Linked DNA regions of Homo sapiens: regions 2 and 3 are each linked to region 1. The links come from fine-mapping of genetic effects on gene expression. A gene starts in region 1. Each other region holds a variant in brackets. All regions are shown on one strand. Distances are from middle to middle. Region 1 holds the start of CFAP92 (cilia and flagella associated protein 92 (putative)). Region 2 overlaps CFAP92 (cilia and flagella associated protein 92 (putative)). Region 3 has its middle 4.2 kb from the start of MIR12124.

Evidence for each region. PIP is the estimated chance that this variant, and not a neighbour inherited with it, causes the effect. A credible set is the group of variants that fine-mapping cannot tell apart.
Region 2: its variant is the best candidate, but not a certain one, in a credible set for the expression of CFAP92 in transverse colon (GTEx, PIP 0.68).
Region 3: its variant is the best candidate, but not a certain one, in a credible set for the expression of CFAP92 in cerebellum (GTEx, PIP 0.59).

The regions. Positions count from the first base shown.
Region 1 is chr3:128,992,341-128,996,581 of GRCh38, forward strand. It overlaps CFAP92 (cilia and flagella associated protein 92 (putative)), which reads right to left and starts at 1,736. Exons shown (of 16, transcript NM_001394090.1): 1 at 1,640-1,736; 2 at 703-996. The coding sequence starts at 964. RefSeq lists an enhancer at 404-1,165 and a silencer at 1,742-1,951.
Region 2 is chr3:128,928,262-128,932,502 of GRCh38, forward strand. All of the region lies in intron 12 of CFAP92 (cilia and flagella associated protein 92 (putative)), which reads right to left. Among named protein-coding and RNA genes, the nearest start is that of ACAD9, 51 kb to the left of the region's middle. RefSeq lists an enhancer at 3,953-4,241. The variant A/T (reference allele first, on the strand shown) is at 2,435.
Region 3 is chr3:128,848,887-128,853,127 of GRCh38, forward strand. It overlaps the pseudogene MARK3P3 and the pseudogene MARK2P6. Among named protein-coding and RNA genes, the nearest start is that of MIR12124, 4.2 kb to the left of the region's middle. The variant C/A (reference allele first, on the strand shown) is at 2,455.

The DNA of each region.
Region 1 (4,241 bases):
GACCTGAGGTCAGGGGTTCGAGACCATTCTGGCCAACATGGTGAAACCCAGTCTCTACTAAAAATACAAAAATTAGATGGGTGTGGTGGCGTGCACCTGTAATCCCAGCTACTTGGGAGGCTGAGGCACGAGAATTGCTTGAACCCGGAAGGCTGAGGTTGCAGTGAGCTGAGATCGCACCACTGCACTCCAGCCTGGTGACAGAGCAAGACTCCATCTCAATAAAAAAAGAATTATTATTTTTTTTTTTTTTGACAGAGTTTTGCTCTTGTTGCCCAGGCTGGAGTGCAATGGCGTGATCTCTGCTCACCACAACCTCCACCTCCGGGGTTCAAGAGACTCTCCTGCCTCAGACTCCCGGAAAATGTATTTTAAACAAGGTATTAGGTGATGCACAAGCGCTTATGAGAATCAATGCCTTAACCTCTCCATGGTTTTTTTTTCTTCTGTAAAAAGCAGACAGAACATCACCTGCTTTAGGGTTGTTGAGAGGATTAAGTATGTGAAGCTGATGCAGCCACAGTTGGGCCTCTCCTAAAATTGCTGTTTCTTTTCAACCTCTGCTCCTGGCTGGCACTGGCCAGCCCGCTTTGGGGTGGGGCAGGTGGAGAGAGGATGTGGGGTGTATGCGCCCTAAACTCCTGCAGAAAGTCATGCACCTCCTTTTTTCAGAGGGTGTTAAACTTCTGCTCTAGCACCTACCCATATTCACAGGGAAGGCCAGTGAGATGGTGAATTTGCAGGGGACCACGTGGGGCACGTCGGAGCTGAAAGTGCTGGCAGGCTCAGATGAGGACTCGATGCTGCTGCACGGGCGGTCAGAGTCAGACTCCTGGGCCCTGGCCTTGGCCTTCAGGTGTTCCTCCACGTCACACTCGCTCGTGGACTGGTAAAAGCTAGTGATGGAGGAGATGGGCTCTATGCTTGCGGGGTCCTCTTCCCACTCCCAGGCATGTAGCGACATGCTGCAGAGCGCACTGCTGGCCGCCGGCGCTCCTGGCAGGGAGAAAGTGAAGGCTGTCCCCGCCTGTATTCCAGGGCTGCTCCAGGAGGTAAGCCCGGCCTCCTGCAGAAGCACCCACCCTTCTCTTCCCTGCTTCCCCCGCCTGCTCCTAGATGAACGCCGGGGCTCCTTCACTGCCTGCCACACAGTCGGTACTCAATCGACTTAGAGAATGAATGGATGAAGGAACAACAGATAAGGGTGGCTGGCAGTAAGCACGACGACGAGCAACCCCGTTTCCTTCGCCTAACCAGGAGTCAGTCGCCGGGCTTCTGGAATGCCTGCCCCAGGTGAGCAGCTCCCGGGAGCCACCAGGCGGGAGAGGGGACGTCTGCTCAGGCAGGCCTGCTGCGCCTAAGCACAAGATGCGTTTGCTATTTGGGGAGAGGCAAACCAGGCCGGGGGCAGCACGTGCAGGAGCCTGGCGAGGTCGGGGAGGGCAAGCCCTGTCCCCAAGACAGAACATGAATGTGCACTGGGTGCTGGGCTCGGGGCATCAGCTCAGGCCCATGGAGGCGGAACGCCGGGCAAACGCCGAAGAGGGAACACGCATCGAGGCGAGGCGGGAAGAGTCCCGGGCTGCGGCGGCCGAGGTGGGGGCAGGGGTCGGGGTTCCCCTCCAGGTGCTGGCGGTACCTGCGAGCGGATGCGCTGGGCGGCAGCGGGGAGTTGGACCGCGGCGGCAACTCCCGTACCGGATCCACAGCCACCTGGGCGAAGAGACTCCAAGACTGAGAGGAGCGTCCGCCGGTGCAGGGAGGGCCGCAGGCCCAGCCACTCAGCTACGTTTGGCGGTTGCTAGGAGACGCGAGGGCGTGCGGCCTGGGGGCGGGGCTCCGCGGGGCGGGGCTTTCCCCCTCAGCCACTGCGCGCAGTTTGTCAAATGGCTACATCCAGGTTCAGAAACCAGCTGCCTTCATTCCTTCACTCATGCATTCACTCATTAAGGAGTTTCTACTCGGAACGTCAGCACCTACTATAAGCCTGGTCCTTGCCCGTACGATGGGAGGTAGGGGTTGATGGCTCCTTCCTCCCCCTCCATCAGCTCCCACCTCCCATTCTTTAATAAAAGCAAAGGAAGCTGTGGGCTCTGCAAACTCCAGACCTCCCCACGATCCCTCTCATTAGATTCTCTGCTTCTGTCGCCGATGTCCTTAAAAACCAGACCTCCCCACGATCCCTCTCATTAGATTCTCTGCTTCTGTCGCTGATGTCCTTAAAATAGCATGAGAATTCTTGTTAGTGATCATGAGCGCCAACTCAGAGATCAGAAAACAAAGCTTAGAGAGGTGAAGCGATTCGCCCGAGGTCACACAGCAAGTAGGGCGCAGCACTGTGTTGAAATCCGGACTGCCTGACTCCAAAGCCTCCGCTCGTCTGCTAAACCACCCAAGCTGAGAGCCCTGGCTGCGGCTCCTAATGTAGAGGACCTCAGCACAGCAAGCGGCTGGGACAGAGGGCTGGGGTAGGCCTCATGGAGGAAGTGAGCAACGCCAAATCTGGGGGGTGACTAGGCAGAGGCGGTGAAAGCAAGAGAAAGCATCCCAGGTAGAGGAACAGCATATGCAAAGGCCCATAGAGGTGAAAGGGCATGGCAAGTTTCAGGAATGGGTGGCGAGGCTGTAGCAGTGTGCAGGGCCCATGGTACATAGCCCCACAGGGCAGGTTAGGGCACAGGACTATGGGCAATGGGGAGCCAAGGCAGGTCTTCTGTTGAGGGAGGGCACCCTGCTCCGGCAGTCAGTTTGTTCAAGAGAATGGGAGCTGAGGCTACACACAAGCTTGGCTATTAAGAAAACTTTAGCTGAGTTGAGCTATGACCTACTTTGTGTCAAAGAGCAAAACTGTGGCGCAGCTGGGGCTGAGACCCAAGTCCTGAGCCTCCCAGTGCATGCCTCCCCAGACCGCTCTCAGGGCATGGGACAGCCCCTTTAATACTGGGTGCTCCAATACTCCTCGGGTTCAGTCTGAAAAACAGCCTCAAGTACAGCTGTTAGGGAAGACACCAAATGGCAGTGGGCCCTGTGAGGAGTGGGTTCAAACTCTTAGCACGAGAACGGCAACCACCTTGCCCACACCCCACCTGCAGCAGCCTGGAGACTGCTGTCTGTATGCCAGGAAGTGCTCAGGAGACACATGAAGGGCTGGAAGAATACAAAGCTACTCAGATACACCAGCCCCCAAAAGGGCCCTTTAACAAGGGCAGTTCAACACTACCACCACTCTTGGACAGACATCAGGCCTCCTGCTCCCCAGGTCCTACCCACTGGCCTGAGGCTGGTTTCCCTCCAAAGGTTCCTAGATCACATCACCACCTAGGACAGAAGCCAATCTCTTCCCAAGCTCAATAGTGAGAGGCCAGAGGTCTTGGACCAAGGGCCAATGTGCCATCCTGGATGTGCACTGGAAACACCTACATGTCAAAAATACAATTCTGAGGCTTCATTAAAGACCTGTGGAAGTGACTCTCCAGGGGTGGAGCTTAGAAACCAGTGGCAGATTGTATTTTCCAAAGACAGCCACCTCAAAAGATCCCCTCCCACATAATCTTCCGGCAGGCATTGTGAGGTTCACATTCCTCCCACCCAGTTGGGGGGTCTAGTCTCCTTCTCTGGAAACTGGGCAGACCTCTGTGACTGGCTCAGTCAAAAGAGTGCAGAGGAAATGACACTATGTGATTTCTGAGGCCAGGTCATATAAATTCCATCTACCTCTGCCCTGTTCTTTTGAGGTATAGTATTCATGCTAGGAATCCAGCTAGCATGTTGTGAGGAAGCCCAAGCAGCCATGTGAAATGGCCACATGAAACTGTTGTGACTGACGGTTCCCAGCCAATTGCAGCCTCAACCCCCAGACATATGAGAGTGCAAGACTTCAAATGATCCCAGCCCTCAGTCTTTGAGCCACCCTGGCTGACATTGAGGAACAGAAACAAGCTGTCTCCATCATGAGAAATTGTAGATTTATAAGCAAATTGTTGCTCTCTTAAACCACTAAGTTTTGGGGTGATTTGTTGTGCAATAAATAATAGGAACGGGAGCCATATTTTTAAATTACCACCAAGATTGTATTGCACAACCAGAATATGGAACCACTGCCCTGAGAGAGATGGTGTCTGGGTCAAGACCTAGGGCATCACAGGATGAAGTGAGGGCAAAGGTGTGCTACCCACTACTCAGGTATGAGACAGTGGTGGGTCTACAACCCTACCTCAGTGAAGATGGCTTCAGGGCTGGCA
Region 2 (4,241 bases), 64 kb before region 1:
AAATAAACAAAATCCCCATGAAATTCCTATAGAATTTGTTGCAGAAATTGGCAAGCTGATCTTAAAATATATGTGGAAATGCAAAGGACCCAAAGTAGTCAAAGCAATTTTGAAAAAGAACAAAGTTAAAGGACTTACACAATCCAACTAACTAACTATAATTAAAGTCATCAAGACAATGTGTTGCTGGTATATGGAGAGGCATATAAGTTAATGGAACATAGTTTAGAACTCAGATATACACCCTTACATTTATGGTCAATTCTTGACAAAAAGATGCTAAGTCAATTTAATGGGGGAATAGCTAGTCTTTGCAAGAAATGATGTGAGGACAACTGGATATCCATATGCAAAAAGATTAATTTAGACCCTTACATTGGACCTCAAAAAAAATGGTTCACAGATCTAAATGTGAGAGCTAAGAGTAAGTGTAAGAGAAAGGATATGAAATGATCTTCGTAACTTTAAGCAGAGTCCTTAACTATAACACCAAAAGCATGATTGCTAACAGAAAAAACATAAATTGGAATTTATTAAAATTAAGAACTTTTATACTTCAAAATTTTCTTATACCATTAAGAAAAAAAAGAAAAGCCACAAATATGGAGAAAATATTTGCAAATCATATTTCTCATTAAGTACTTGTATCCAGAATATATAACAACTCAACAATAAAAAGACAACTTGATTTTAAAATGGATAAATGATACAGATGGCCAGGCACAGTGACTCATAACTGTAATCCCAGCACTTCGGGAAGCCAACGTGGGAGGACTGCCTGAGCCCAAGGGGTTCAAGACCAGCCTGGGTAACACAGTGAGACCCTGTCTCAATTTGAAAAAAGAGATTAATTCAAAAAGATACAAATATATATTACATCAAAGAAGCGTTATAAATTCCTAATAAGCACATTAAAAGATATCTAGCATCGTCAGTCATTATAAAATGCAAATTAAAATCATGAGATACACACTAGAATGGCTATAATCAAAAGGACGGATAAGTGTTTGTATGAATGCAGAGAAACTAGAACCCTCATGCATTGCTGGTAGGGATGTTAAGATTGTGCAACTACACTGTAAAAACCGCTTTTCTTACAATGTAATTTCTTAAAATCATAAATATAAACCTACCTATATGACCCAGCAATTCCACTCCTAGGTTCTACCCAAGAGAAATGAAAACATATTTTCACGTAATGATTTGTATGCAAATGTTTATAGGAGCAATATTTATAATAGCCCCAAGCAAGAAATAATAGTAATTCCAAAAAGTGGTGAATGGATAAATGTGGTACATCAATTCAATGGAATAATATTTAGCAATAAAAAAAGAACACACCGCTGATATATTCAGGTACGTGGATGAACCACAGGAACTTTATGCTCAGTGAAAGAAGCCAGACACAAAAGTTTACATAATTATATGGTTCCAATTACCTGAAATATTCAGACAAGTCAAATCTATCAAGACAGAAAGTAGATCAGTGGTTATGTGGGACTAAGAATGGAGCAGAGATTGACTGTAAACTAGCATGAGAATACTTTTTGTGGTGATGGAAATGTTCTAAAACTGGATTGTGATGATGGTGTTATAACTATAAATTTACTAAAAACTACTGATTTATATATACTTACAATAGGTGAATTTTATGGTATGTAAATTATATCTCAAGGTGTAAAAATGTGAAAAAATTAAATTATGGTTGGGTTTCAATTATTATAGTATGAATAGGAAATTTAAAGCCATTTTAGAGTAGCCATATCTAAGATAATAGGAACATGATTTTTTAAAAAGCTGGAACAATATTTACAAGAGATTTTAGCAAATTTGTAAGAGATAGGGGGCTAGTAAATAAATTGTATACTACTATATTATAAAATTCTCCATATTATTGCATTTTTTTTGAGATGGAGTCTCGCTCTGTCGCCCAGGCTGGAGTGCAGTGGCGTGAATTTGGCTCACTGCAACCTCTGCCTCCTGGGTTCACGCCATTCTCCTGTCTCAGCCTCCCAAGTAGCTGGGACTACAGGTGCCCGCCACCACGCCCAGCTAATTTTTTTGTATTTTTAGTAGAGATGGGGTTTCATTGTGTTAGCCAGGATGGTCTCGATCTCCTGATTTCATGATCCGCCTGCCTCAGCCTCCCAAAGTGCTGGGATTACAGGTGTGAGTACTGTGCCTGGCCCTGCAAAATCTTTAAAAACCCTTCCTCATGGCCAGGCGTGGTCACCTGTAATCCTAGCTCTTTGGGAGGCTGAGGTGGATCACTTGAGGCCAGGAGTTCGAGACCAGCCTGGGCAACATGGCGAAACCCCATCTCTACTAAAAATACAAAAATTAGGCAGGCATGGTGGTGTGTGCCTGTAATCCCAGCTACTCAGGAGGCTGAGGCAGGAGAATCACTTGAGCCTGGGAGGCAGATACCGCAGTG[A/T]GCCGAGATCACGCCACTACACTCGAGCCTGGGCATCAGAGCAAGACTGTCTCAAAAATAAAAATAAATTTAAAACACTTCCTTGTTATGTGGCATTAACAAAATTATATTAACCCATGAAATGAATATATATTCTTGTACATATCTAAGTGCATTAAGAGGTAGGATAAGGAAGACTGCAAATACTCTCAACATTGTTTGACTTTTTTTGTTTGTTTGTTTTTTTGAGACAGGGTCTCATTCTGTTGCTCTGAGTGCTGGAATGCAGTGGCGCGATCTTGGCTCACTGCAACCTTACCTCCCAGATTCAAGTGATTCTCCTGCTTCAGCCTCCCAAGTAGATGAGATTACAAGTGTGCACCACGACACCCAGCTAATTTTAGTATTTTTAGTAGAGACGGGTTTTGCCATGTTGGCCAGGCTGGTTTCGAACTCCTGGCCTCAAGGGATCTGACCGCCTCAACCTCCCAAAATGCTGGGATTACAGGCATTAGGCACTGTGCCGCATTGAGACAGGGTCTCACTCTGCCATCCAGGCTGGAATGTAATGGCGTGATCTCAGCTCACTGCAACCTGTGCTTCCCAGGCTCAAGCTTCAGTCTCCTGAGTAGCTGGGACTACAAGTACATGCCAGCATGCCCAGCTAATTTTCTGTAGAGACGGTTTCGCCATGTTGCCCAGGCTGGTCTCGAACTCCTGAGCTTAAGCAACCTGCCCACCTCGGCCTCCCAAAGTGGTATGAGATATATATATGTGTGTATATATATATACACATACATGTATATATATGTATGTATGTATATGTATATATGTATATATATGTATGTATGTGTATATATATATATATATTACACAAGAGAAATAAAAATGAATGAAATAGCCAACTAGAGAAGATAGAAAAAAGGAGAAAGGTGTAAGTTTTAAAGTATCATAAAAATAAAAGCTGAAGTTAATGAATTAGAAAAACAGAAAAAGCAGAATTGATAAATCCAAGAACTGATTCTTTTGAAAAAGCTAAAAAGTTTTTTCCACTAATGGAAAAAACAGCCAGGCACAGTGACTCACACCTGTAATCCCAACACTTTGGGAGGCCGAGGCAGGAGAATCCCTTGAGCCTAGGAGCTGGAGACCAGCCTAGGCAACACAGCAAGACCCAATCTCTAAAAAAAAAGTAAAAAAAATTAACCAGGTGTGGTGGCGCATGCCTGCCTACTCAGGAGGCCGAGGTGGGAGGACTGCTTGAGCCCAGGAGTTGGAGGCTGCAGTGACCCATGATCAAGTCATAGTACTCTAGCCTGGGCAACAGAGTGAGACCCCGATTCAAAAAACATAAAAGAAGTCTGTTCTTTGGTTTTCATAAAGACTGCACACATACAAAGCTTACAAGCTTCTAGGAGTCTTTGTTTTAAACTGGAGAATTGCAGGGATGGTAGGGCCTTCACACAGACCACAGGCACACAACTCCAAGTCATACCACAGATGTCTGTGTTTTCATGTCTTTTTGGTTGGCATGGGGTGAGCGAGGTTCTCCTTGCCCATTCAGGCCACACAGCACCAGCCTTCTACCCCCTCACCAGCTTCTCAGTCTCCCATTCTCTCCCTCTGTCATGCAGATTAGTTTATGTCCCATGTTGCTTGGACATCTTATGACACTTATGCCCTGAGCAGCGTAAGCAACATGTTACACACACACACACACACATGCCACAGTTCTTTCTCTACAATGAACTCTGGGAGCCATGGTAAAGGTAATATAGCTAATAGCATTCCTTCTCACCTTTCAGGAAGGACAAGGTTATCTAGGACT
Region 3 (4,241 bases), 140 kb before region 1:
GCGGGCACTGACACCCCTGGCCCAGGAAGAGTTCTGGGGCCACGTAGGGGGTACGTGCCACAAAAGGCTGGCACACTTCGTAAGTGTGGTGCTGAAGCCAAAGTCCAGGTATTTGATGTTGCCATCCTCATCCAGTAGGATGTTTTGTGGCTTTAGGTCTCCATGTGAGATGTTCTTTAAGTGGCAGTCCTGCAGTGTTGACGGAATCTGCCTGAACCGGGTGTGGGCCTCCTCCTCCTCCTCGATGTGGCTGTGGTGGCATATCTGGTGGTGCAGCTGTCCTCGTCCGACGCACTCCATCTCCAAATAGTCGGTGTCTATGGTGTCAGTCACCTGATGGAGCTGAATGTTCAGACGCTTGAGGGTCTCCGTGATACTGACCTCTCTGGAGAGTGATGCGGGGGAGCCAGCCTTCTTCGGGATGATTTCCATGGCTACCTGGGTCCCTGTCAGCATATGCTGGACCAGTGTGCCCTCACCGAACGTGCCCTGGCCGATGGTCTTGAGGATCCTACACTTTTGGATCTCTTCATCAAGTGCGTTGGAGGCTGATCCCTCCTCCGTGGTGCCTCCTAACTACCCTGACTACAAATCCTACCTCTGAACTATGCTAACTGAGGCACAACGCCAACTCCAATAACTAGGCTAGAGTCGCACAGGCTGCCTGGGGAGGGTGGAGACCGAGAGCCCTCTCCAGAGCCTGGTCTCCTTTGCCATGTTCCCTCTATCATTTTCCCTTGCACAGGAGAGGGGAGGGGTGTGCCCAGAAACTAAGAGCCACTCCCCTCCTTATCCTTTCATGACTCTTCTGGGGTCACACCCTCACCCTTGCCCACCCTGGAGCCCCCGTTTTGCTTTGAGGGGACCCGGGCCAGTGACTGTCGAATCACACCTGAGGCCCTGGGTGCATCAGTGGCCATGTGGGGGCAGCTAGGAGGTGTCCCCAGAGAGGCCCTGTGGTCATCCCCTGCTCTGCGGCTGTGTGCAGACCCCGGAGGCACAATCAGACTTCAGGGGCACAGCCAGAGGACACTTCCCCTCCACCGTCCCCTTTAGACTCTGCAGAATCCCTGGAGGATATCCAAGTGCACACAGTTTGTGCTCCCCAGCTACCCCGTGAGGGCACGCCCTGGATTAGTGTGAACAAATGGAAGCTGCTCCCGTGGGCAGGTCGAGTGCCTCTGGCACTCCGTTGGCTGCTGCCCACAAAGCTCCCGGCCATGGCCTCCCGGGGGGCTGCACTATCACTCTGGCTGCCTCCAAATGGAGAGAGGACTGCAGTGACCTGGGCGGGGTTAGGGGAGAAGGAGGTGGCAGGGCAGAGGAAGCAGGAGCACACAGGAGGAAGAGACAGTGCCCTGGGCCATATCTTCTCTCCTACCCTAACATGAGCCAAATTAGAACCATCTGGATGAAGAAAAGACAGAGAAGAGCAGGGCAGGGGAGAAGTGCCCCAGGAAACACTGTCCAGGCTTTTACATTCCACTAGGTGGGATGGAGGCGCCCTCTGATGTCCAGGAGGCTCCAGGCGGTCCATCTCACCCCTTCCTTTGGATAAGAATGCTTTCAAGGCCACACGGCTACCAGAAGCTTACTTGATTTGAATCCCATGCAGAGACCCCTCTGCCACTTTACACACTTCTGTCCTCCACTGGACAAGGCCTCCAGGCTGGGGGTGTCAGACACACAGCAGCGAGGGTGTCTTGCCCAGTTCTCCCATGCGGCCGTTGGAGCCCACACGTGGCTGACCTGTCATGTTTGTAGTGTTCTTGGACCTCAGGGCCTTCGTCCTCTCCATTCTAAGTACAGAAAGACATTTGACTGACATGGACTCCCTCAGGTGTTTTGCAATACGCAATACATTCTCATTGACTCTGGTCACCCTGCTGTGCACTGGATGTGAAAACCTCTTCTTCCTGTCCATCTCAGACTTTGGTCCTTTGAGCAACAACTCTCCATTCTCTCCCTCTTTCCCACCCCCACACCTGATACCCAGCCCCTGGTCACCATTGATCTACTCGCTACTTCTACGGGGTCAACATTTTTCGATCAAGACTTCCGTAACTTCATGTGGAATTTGCCTTTCTGAGGTGATGGAGATGCTAAGATTTGATCATTCCATGGTGCACACATCTATCTAATCCTCACATTATATCCCATAAATGAATACAAGCATAATTTTCCAATTAAAAATAATAATTAAAAAATAATAAACGGCTAGGTGCCATTGCTCACGCCTGTAATCCCAGCACTTTGGGAGGCCGAGGCGGGCGGATCACCAGGTCAGGAGATTGAGACCATCCTGGCTAATATGATGAAACCTCGTCTCTACTGAAAATACAAAAAATTAGCCGGGCGTGGTGGCAGGTGCCTGTAGTCCCAGCTACTTGGGAGGCTGAGGCAGGAGAATGGCGTGAACCCGGGAGGCAGAGCTTGCAGTGAGCAGAGATTGCG[C/A]CACTGCACTCCAGCCTAGGCGAGAGAGTGAGACTCCATCTCAAAATAATAATGATAATAATAATGAACATATGACTCAGAGACATTTTCTAAAAACAAAAAAAGAAACCAACAAAAGCATAATAAATAAAATAAAGTGCAGAAAAGGCAGCTTGCCCCCCACCCTCCGCTTGGTTTGTGTCTGGGCCGCAGCTGTCCCCTGGGTTTACTGGAGCCACTGTATTTCTCCATGCACAGTGGGTCTTTGGGGCCAGGAGGAAGCAAAATGTTTTTGAAGACAAATCTAGTGGCTCCCTGGCAGCCCTGGCTCTCTTCACAGGGAGAGGCTGAGGTCACACCATCTGATGCCCAGTGGAGAGGGTGCTGGCTTCCCGGGCTGTTCCCTGGGGACAGGTGACTCCTCCTGGGTCTCCCACATGGACAGAACTGACGTCCTGGGATGTTCCCTGGGGGCAGTTGACTCCTGGGCCGCTCCCACTGCTGCTGGTGCTCTGGATGGAGGGGGAGGCCACAGGGCCACACTCGGAGATGTGCTGGTATTGGGTCACATCACCTCCAGGCCCAGAAGGGGACAAGCAGGCAAGGTGGCTTCTCTGGGCATCTTCTGCCCTGGCCCTGGTCCTCCTTGGGTTGCTGGATTTCTGAAGTAAGGGTGGGAAAGGCCACAGTCAAGACCTTTTTCACCAAACATTCCAGCCCTTGACTCCCCTTTGGTTGGACAGAAAAGTTGGACTTAACTTTGGGGGATGGGGAAGGTCAGTGGGATCCCCAGGATTAGGTAGGTGGCCATGGAATAATTATATATATATTTTTTCCTACTGGGGATTCCTTGATGTGCCTAGAATGTCACGGCTACCAAGAGTCAGGTTGTTAGGGGGCCCAGGTGACTGGGGAGCAGCTCTATGTGTGGCCCAAGGGTTCCCTGGCCAGCATTGACCCAGGGGTCCCGCATCAGCTGGTCCTCTGTGGGTCATTCTCTGGGGTCAAGGATCAGAAATTTCTTGATAAATATTTCAATTCGGAAGGAATATAGACAGTACATATTTTCCTTGAGTATGTTTTTTTGAGGCTGAGAAGTTCTGCCTGCCAAATGGCAGGGCCCTGGCCCCATGTGGTAGACGGGAGAGCCAAGACCCACACGACCACTGCAGGGCTGTGATACTCGTGGCCCAGGAAGAGTTCTGGGGCAGCTTAAGGGGAGTCCCACCAAAGGCGCTCAGCTTCTGGCCTTGGGAATATGTGGTGCTGAAGCCAAAGTCAGCTCTTTTCATGTTGTGCTCTTCATGCAGGAGTCCTGCCACCCAGGTCCTGGCGGCTGACTTTGGTGGCAGTACTACAGGGCAGATAGTATTTGCAGAAACATGGCTTGAGCCTCCTCCTTCTCCATGTGGCCAGGCTGGAGTGTTTGGTGGAAAAGGTCTTCACTATGAGTATCACCATAGCTCAGTATGGGATGTCTGAGGTTTCAATGACATGATATGGCTTTATTATGATGGGACACTCAGGGCCTTCATGACGTCTACCTTTCTGTGTAGACTCAGAAGGCTGGGGGAGCCCCTAGTTATAGATTTTATTTTTACAGCCACCTGAGTCCCAGTGAGTTCGTGCTGGGTCAACTTCACCTCACCCAGGCTTCCCTGGGCCAATGGTCTTGAGGACTGTGGCATTTTTTTTTTTTTTTTTTGAGACGGAGTCTCGCTGTCGCCCAGGCTGGAGTGCAGTGGCTCGATCTCGGCTCACTGTAGGCTCTGCCCCCGGGGGTTCACGCCATTCTCCTGCCTCAGCCT